Linked DNA regions of Homo sapiens. The protein of the gene in region 1 purifies or fractionates together with the protein of each later gene. This does not show direct contact. Each region holds a gene or a part of one and is shown on either strand. Other genes may lie near its edges.

The links.
Region 2: the proteins of GPR65 (region 1) and CYGB purify together in Homo sapiens (affinity purification with mass spectrometry; one large-scale study listed by BioGRID and IntAct). This does not show direct contact.

Annotation. Positions count from the first base shown.
Region 1 is NC_000014.9:88,003,676-88,008,226, forward strand, and holds the start of GPR65 (G-protein coupled receptor 65), read left to right. Parts: upstream 1-1,459; 5' UTR 1,460-1,547; intron 1,548-4,551. UniProt on the Homo sapiens protein: Proton-sensing G-protein coupled receptor activated by extracellular pH, which is required to monitor pH changes and generate adaptive reactions. Activated by an optimal pH of 7.4.
Region 2 is NC_000017.11:76,527,710-76,531,524, reverse strand, and holds part of CYGB (cytoglobin), read left to right. Parts: coding exon 1-65; intron 66-382; coding exon 383-546; intron 547-1,503; coding exon of another isoform or gene 1,504-1,573; exon of another isoform or gene 1,574-2,907; intron 2,908-2,913; coding exon 2,914-2,947; 3' UTR 2,948-3,815. UniProt on the Homo sapiens protein: Probable multifunctional globin with a hexacoordinated heme iron required for the catalysis of various reactions depending on redox condition of the cell as well as oxygen availability.

The DNA.
Region 1 (4,551 bases):
TAAGCAGATGTACGAAACCAAGCAAAAATGAGAACTTTGAATTACAGTCACAAGTAAACTGAAATCGTTACTTTTCATTTTTGTAAAACTTCAAGACATTTATTGTTAATTTTTTACTTTATACTTAATTTTTATTATTTCAGTAACAATATATTGATTTATAATTTACTATATGCTAAATTACTTTATAAACTATCCTGTGCTTTATAAATGTAAGGTATTAGTTTTATTATTCTCAAAGAAAGACCTACAACGGAAGTATTGAAAATCTTTACATTCCTGATATACCCTGATCAACTTCAATATGGAAAGCCTTGCTTATATACAGGCTAATCTTTTCTATCTCTGGGTAGGGAGAAAAAAACAACAAAAAAAAAACACCAGCAACAACCCTTAATGTCCTTTAACAAACACAGATTCAAAATGTCCTGATTACATCTTTAAAATTAAGTCAAATGTTTTCATCCCAAATAAATTCTGTTCTTTCAAATAATATTTTCCCTTCATTTCTAATAAAAGTTTATGAGGGCAAGATTCAAAAGTGATATTTCTGACTTTTTTATATATCAATAGTAAGAAAGTTATAGGAGCTAATTTCACTTCATATTAAACCACTTATAGATTTGGCATTAACTTTAACTTGCTAAAGTACAAGAGTTTTTATAATAACAATGTAAGTCTTAAATAAAATTTTCAAGTTTCATAAAATTATTTGTCTCAGCTAGTTAATTCAACTGGTTTTTAGCCATCTCTGTTTCCAAGAGGAGAGAATCAAAGGAGAAAATAGTTCTACAATCAAATACTATATATCTAATCCCATTAGTCTCTCAAAAAAAAAAAGAAAAGAAAGACGGTATGAGGTTGGCTACCTTAACCCCTGCCTTAAGCAGCACAATATCCATCATTAAACCCCTCAGCCTCAATTCTCCCTTTTCTGTTTTTGTCCCAGGAACTTTATCACCCTGAATCTACCTACAATATCCTCCCCTATCTCACACATCCAAATGGTTCATTCTATTTTATCTGTACCCCTCTTGAAGTACTTCTTCATTTTGCCATTGCATTACAATCATTATTAAACATGTCTTTCTCCTTTACTAGGTAAAAAAAGCTGCTTTTGGTTGATAGCCAGTTCGTATACATCTCCCCGCACACTGCTGGCATGATGAGTGAATGAATGAATGAATGAATGAATGAACAAAGAAATAAATAAAATATTTAACATATATTCCATTAAGTAAAGGGCATATAATATAATATCAGTACATACTTGTAATTAAGATGCAATGAGACAAGTGAGTTATAAAAATTACAGTACAGTAAACAATAAATAAAAACATCTTTAAAAGTATTTAAGAGACTTTTTTTGTTCAAACTTGGATAACGCACACCCTTCTCATTGAGATGCTGCTTCCTCATTGGTTTGTGCTGAAATATGAGTGCAATTTCCTGTCCCCTCAGCAGTGTTGGTTTCTCTTCTTGACTTGATGCAGGCACAGATTTATCAAGCTCCTCAGTCAACAAACACATCACCGGAAGAAATATGGGTAAGTATAAGATTAAAAAATAAAATAATATTTTAAAGTAGATAACATGCTTTGGCATAATTGTCAGTGATGTTCGCAACATTCTTCCTGGTTTAGGCTGTATAAATGTGGTAATGCAAAGCATGATAAGAGAGAAAGAAATGAGGAAGACACATGGTTTCCTCTACTTTGAGCAGTGGTAAAGGGCCAAACTTTAAATTTAGAACTAATTAGGCAAAACCATAGATATAGAAAAAGGGGGTTGTTCATACTTTATTTTCTTTTCAGGAAACAGTGCTTTGGCAAACTTCATTCAGTATTAGGAAGAAGCCTACCAGCCCCTGGCTTTAGAGCTATCTGGCACCAATCCCTCATCTGTACAATGGTCCAGTAAATACTTTTTATATCCATCAGAAAAAAATGTGATATTAGGAAAGAATATTTCCAGTATTAATAAATGTCAAGTAATAATTATTAGTTAATAAGTGACTACCACAGTGCCTGAAATATATAGTAGAGTCTTAATAAGTAACTATTAAACTGATAGATGAAAGCAAGCATTTTCTATAACACTGTAGGAAAATATTGTACTTTTGGTCATCGTCATCAATGATTTGTACTATTTTTAGATCTGTTCAAGAATAGATATACTTTAATATACTGTAGATTGTCTTTTTTGACATCTGGTAAAAATTAAAAAATTAAAAACTCACCAAAATTTCTCAGTGCTTGTTCTAAAAACAATTTTCTCAAAATTTGATTAAAGGAGGCAAAATAATATCTGAAAAGATATGTGAATACTGTAATAGGAATTATATACAGTATTCCACTAAAATCTCAGATCCACCCAAATTAAATGAACAACTATTATCTGCAGAGCCTAGTATTATACGTGAAGTGTTACCATATAAATTACACTCTGAGCACCTCCAGCTTTTCTGCTATGCTGTGGCTAGATGACTAAAGATGATTTCTTTTCAGAAAATGTAGGGGACAGCACAAAGATTGGTGCAGACTACCAATGTCATTAAAACAATATTACCAGCTAACGTACAGTGAATGCCTCCCATGTGCTAGGAACTTTGCTTCATATGTCGTTTCATTTAACCCTCACAACAATCTTAGAAACTGGGTACTAACTTACACATGTGAAAACTGGAACTTAGAGAGGTGAAGAAACACCAATGGGCCCAGAGTGCTGTTGAGAGGCATTCGAATTGTCTCCAGAGCCCACGCTCTTAACCACAAGCCTGTACTGCCTCTGCGTCACTACAAAGAAGAGGGCCTCTGCTTCATCAACCCATCCTGTCTTGTGGTTAAGTCAAGGCAGGAAATGCTTTTACAGCTAGAGAAATGTATTCCATTGAAAACTTTATAAACCTTTCTAAAAATCATTTTTTCATTTAATCTGTCATACCATTTTTAAAGAAAATGATGACTATCTATTGAGTAACACGGACAAAGGAGGAAGAGGCACATGCTGCCCATTACCCGACTTTCTCGGTCCTGGTCTTAAGGGGAGGATGTTTTCATGGTTCAGGTGTTCTTCCCAAGACACATGAGCCTGGTGTTGGACGTGTTGTGTGTGCATCAGAGTCCCATCCGCGGGGGCTGATTCAATCTTCCTGCATCGCAGACATTACCCTAGTGTCCTTTTCCTACTTCAGTTATATCCTTTAGAAGTTTCTTTAGTGGGGATTTTGGATGTAAATGTTCTGAGTGGTAGTTTACCTGAAAATGTCCTAATTCTTGCTCTGGTCCTTGAAATTTAGTTCTGTTGAGTATATAATTATAGGATGACATATATTTTCTTAGCAATTTGGAACTTTTAATCTTCTGCTGTCTGTTATCGCTGTTGAGAAGTCTTTTGTCCGTCTAAATTCCATCCTTCATAGGTAGTCCATCTTTCCTCTCTGGCTCTTTTTTCCTTAGTCTTTGGTGAACTGCAATTTTATTGCAATGTGTCTAAGTATAGGTTTCCATTTTTGTGTTTTTAATCCTATTTGGGATTTTCTAAGCTTCATAAATCTGCAGATTTCATGAGGATTGAAGATGCATGAGGATTCTTCATCCATCCTCAAGATTCCTTCATCAGTTCTAGAAAGCTCATCATCTTTGTGAATATTGCCTTTTCAACATTCTCTCTTTTCGATCTTTATGGAATTCCAATTATGTATATGCCACCCTTTTCACCTTTTCTCCATATCTCTTATATTTTCCCATGTCCTTAACATGCTGATAATTTTGTGTTATTTCTTTATCTCTATCTTGCAATATACAAATTTTCTCTTCAGCTGGATCTAATCAGTTGGTTACTCCCTGTGTTTATTTTTAAATTTAAATTATTATTATTTTTATTTTTAGAAAGTCTTTTTCAATCTTTCTAAAAATATGGCTTGTCATTTTTTAATCTCTTCCTCCTTACTCATGTGTTTAAATCCCTTCTTTTGTTTCTTTAAACATATTAAACATATTTTGTGTTTTTTATATATATATATATAAATTTTATCTCTAAAGTTTTGTGGATCTGGTTTACTTTGTTGTTTCTGCTCAATCTGACACGTAGTTGCTTATTATTCTCTCTGTGTGTATGTGTGTGTGTGTGTGTGTGTGTGTGTGTGAATAAGGTCATATTTGTTAGAACTCTATCTGTAGGATTCTTTGAGGCCTGAGTTAAAGAGGACTTGTTCAAGGGGGGATCTGTGTCAACTTCTTCCAGGAGCCTAGAATTTATTTTTTCATATATAGTTAACCTTTATTTTTGGTGAAGTTATTTTCATAATTAGGTAAATTATTTATTTATTGTTTTCTCTCAATTACATTTTATGTATGAGGATAGAAATAAGATCAGATTTCTTAAAAAGGCATATATGTTCCATCTGTGGGTAAAACAGATGTTTGTTTGTCAAGATGCTCTACATGCCATCTCACACAGCCTTTTGATTCCACTTTTTAATGTTTCCATTGCAATACAATACACATGCAGCAAAATGCACATATCCTAAGTGTACAGCTTGATGCATTT
Region 2 (3,815 bases), on another chromosome or scaffold:
CTGTGCTCGCCCTTGTGGGGAAAGCCCACGCCCTCAAGCACAAGGTGGAACCGGTGTACTTCAAGGTATGCGCCCCCATCTGCTGCAGAGCCCCCACCGCCCACGCGTCATGGCCATCTGCAGCTCGCAGGCTCTGCGACGGCTCTCTGGAGCAACAGAGGTGATCCCCGGAGTGGCTGCGAGAGGGAGGGGCAGTGCCCGGCAGCAGGATGGAGGGGCTGGGTCCAGGGCAACCCTTGTCCTGAGAGCACGGGGTTCCCAAAGCTGCCAGACTGTTGCGTTAGGAATGATCCTCTCGGCCACACGTGGGGCGGAGGGGCCTGGGGGTTGCAGGACGCAGGGCGCCCGGGCGTTCACTCCCCCTTCCTCCCTTTGCCCCCAGATCCTCTCTGGGGTCATTCTGGAGGTGGTCGCCGAGGAATTTGCCAGTGACTTCCCACCTGAGACGCAGAGAGCCTGGGCCAAGCTGCGTGGCCTCATCTACAGCCACGTGACCGCTGCCTACAAGGAAGTGGGCTGGGTGCAGCAGGTCCCCAACGCCACCACGTGAGGAGGCGGGCGAGGGTGGGCTGGGCAGCCTCCCCGCCATGTCCTCTGCTGTCCCCGAGGTCTCCCATATCTCCTGAGGCCCTGGGGCTGATCACCTGGGCAGGCACACTTGAGGCAGGCCAACCCTGGGGTCTGACATGTAAGAACAGGCATAATAGGAAAGGCCTTCAAGATGGCTCCCCTGTGACTTCAGGCTGCTCAGAGCCATGAGCCCTGAGCAAAAATCCTCCCAAAGAGCCTTCCCCTTCCCTAGAGCCAGGGAGAGCTCAGAGCACCCAAAGCCACAGCTGCCCAGGCAGAGAGGCGCCAGAGGCTCCTGGCGGTAAGGTCCGATCATCAGGCTCGGAGGCAGCCCAGGTCAGCCCAGCCACTTCCTCCCTGGGTGCCAATCACAAGGGGCTGTTTTTTCATCTCATGCCGACCAGTGCTGCTAAATGCCCTCTGCCTCAATAGGGCTAGAGCCCGGAGGATCACGAGGACACATACACACACACACACACCCCAGCCCACGAGGAAGCTACATGGGTGTCGCTCACACGCACACGAGCAGGGGCATGTTTACTTCCAGGCTGACCTGGAGGCTGGGCTTCCAGTTCTGGGCCCAGGAGGTGGCTCAAGGAGGGTGGCCGCCCTCTGTGACTCCTGCTGACTCGGAGCGTGAGGGGAGGGCTAGCCCCCAGATGTGGCGGTTGGGAACACTCGGCCTCCCTGGGCCCCCAAGGGGAGGCTGACTCTGGGAGCTGAATGGAGAGGCGGAGGCAGGGCTGGAGTAGGAAGGAGGAGAGGAGCGGAGGCGGGAATGGGAAGCAGAGGTCAGCCAGCAGCCCGGGACACGCGTGGTAGAGAAACATTCCCGTGGTAGAGAAACATTCCCAGCAGTTTCCCATGGAAAAGGCGGCGTCTCCCGCCGGGCTCTGCACGGGCCCCCAAGACTGCCGGCCCTTCTGTTCACAGGCACAGCTCCTGGAGGAGGTCCCCTGAGGGCAGCTGGGGACGCCAGGCCTCCTGCCCTTCCTGCTGCTGACCACACTGGCCCCGGGCTGGCTCCTGCTCCCCTCCCCCCTCTCCCGTCAGCACCACCCCAAGAGAGTGGAGTCCTCGGGAACTGCTGGCTGGAGCCAAGCCAACTCCAGATGTGCACAGCTGGGCCCTGGCCTGCCTGAGACCTGGGAGTCAATGGGAAACAAGCAGATGTTGGCCCACCAGAGGAGGGCACTGGCAGGGCGTGGAGAGCAGTGGTTGCCCCCTCACCCCCCACCAGCTGTCACCCAGAGGGTCCAGGGAAAAGACAGGGGAAGAGGAGGGGAGGGGGCTTGCCTGCCCTCCCACCCCTCTCCCCACGCAGGCTCTGCTGCCAAAGATGAGTTTGTTTACAGCCAGGACACAAGACTTCCTGCTTCCAGAGAAAAGGGCTTTTTTACAAGGGCCAAGAGAGACTGGAAAGAGAGCTGGCTGGGCGCGAGCCCCAGTGAATCAGAAACACATGGCCCAAGTTCCCCAGCACGCTGCCCGTCCTGCCCTCCCCACCCTGCCCTAGGGACTAAGATCTCTCCAAACCCCAAACATTTTGAAACGGCCGAAGTCTCCTCCTCCGCCCACTTCTGCTCCTTGTGGACTGAATGGAGATGGGCTACCGTGGAAACTGGCACCCCATGGGGGTTACTCCCAGCTGTCAAGTGGTGGGGTGGTCCCCTCATCCCTTTACACCCTCTAGCCCACCCCTAGTGTCCCTGGCCTGAGCCTGCAGAGCCTCCCTGCTGCCAGGGTCCCCATGGGCTCGAGGGTAGGATGGAGTTACAGAGTAGAGTCCTAGAAGGCCCTCGCCCAACTTCTCTTATCAGGGAAGCAGGGGTGGGCCAGGCGCCACTGTTTATTGAGCCGTCTCTGCTCCAGGGTGTGCGCCTTTGCGTGGGTGGGGGGTGGGGGGGGGGCGCAATGACTGCAGGGGGCGCTGTGTGTACCGAGAATACGAGAATACAGATGGGTGGCCCGAGGAGGGACGAGACAGGCCGGACAGAATGCGCCACGTTTCAGAATTAATGGAAAAAGAGCTCACATTGGTATCGTGCTTTGCAGTTTGTGAAACACTTTTTTACCCAGTTTATGTCACAAGACAGACATTATTCACATTTTAGAGAAAAAGATCCGGAGCTCCCATGGGCCAGTAGACTTGCCTGAGATCACACAGCACGTTCGTAGCAGGACGGAGACTAGAACTTGGGTCTCACGGTTGCTTTCAACTGCACTGTGCCGGATCTCTTGGCAGGAAGTGAGCCTCGCCAGCCCCAGGTCCTCCCCCTTTCCCCCGAGGGTCCTTCCCTGCCTCTGGTAACGTTTGTCCTTCCCTTCCTATCTCGTCCACAGCCCACCGGCCACACTGCCCTCTTCGGGGCCGTAGGACCCCTAACTCCACCCCCCTCCCTGGCAGCACCTCGAGCAGAAGGCCGAGTTCTGAAGACCCTCCTTGACGCTCCATTTCTGGGTGCCAAGGAAGCTGGAGGAATCCCTGACTCAACTTCCCCGAAGGAGGCCTCTGTGGCGGCCAGGGTCCCCCCCTGGAGCTGCTGGGAGGCGGCGCTGGCTGCCTGGATGCTGACCCCAGCGCGGCGGGCAGAGCGGGGCCCACTCTTCTTAGCTTTTCTACTCACTGTTAGAGAGAGACCTAGCTGAGCGGCTGGCAGGAAGCGGGACAGGTCTAGGAGTCCCTTAGGGAATAAACCAGCCCCGTTTCTATCAGCCCGGCCAGCATGCAGGTCTCCACATCACCATCTAGAGTATCACGCACACATCTACCATATATACAGATATATTCTATATACGAGCTATATATAAATATATATATACATATATATATACACACATACATATCTAGAATGTGTATCCGCGGCGCCCAGAAGCCTCGGTTTGGCCCACCTGTGAGTGGGGCAGGGAGGGGTTCCGGTTGTGCAGAGAACAGAGTGTTCTGGCAAAGAGGAAATCCCACAGCAGCGCAGAGGACCTGGGCCTGGAGGGGCAGGGCTGGGGCAACCCGGCTTGGCGGCAAAGCCCAGCCCCTTCTCAGACCAGCTCCCCACATTCCTGAATTCCACTTCCAGGCAGAAAGGAGTGGGCTCCCCCTACTCCCTCAGAGGAACTGACTCACCGGCTGTCCTAGAATGGGCAGGGGCAGAGCGAAGTTCTGGGTGGGATGACCGCACTGGGGGAGGGGCCTCAGTCCAGAAACCTCGACCGCTAGCTCCACCTGCCTTGGCCACCAGGGCAGCCCC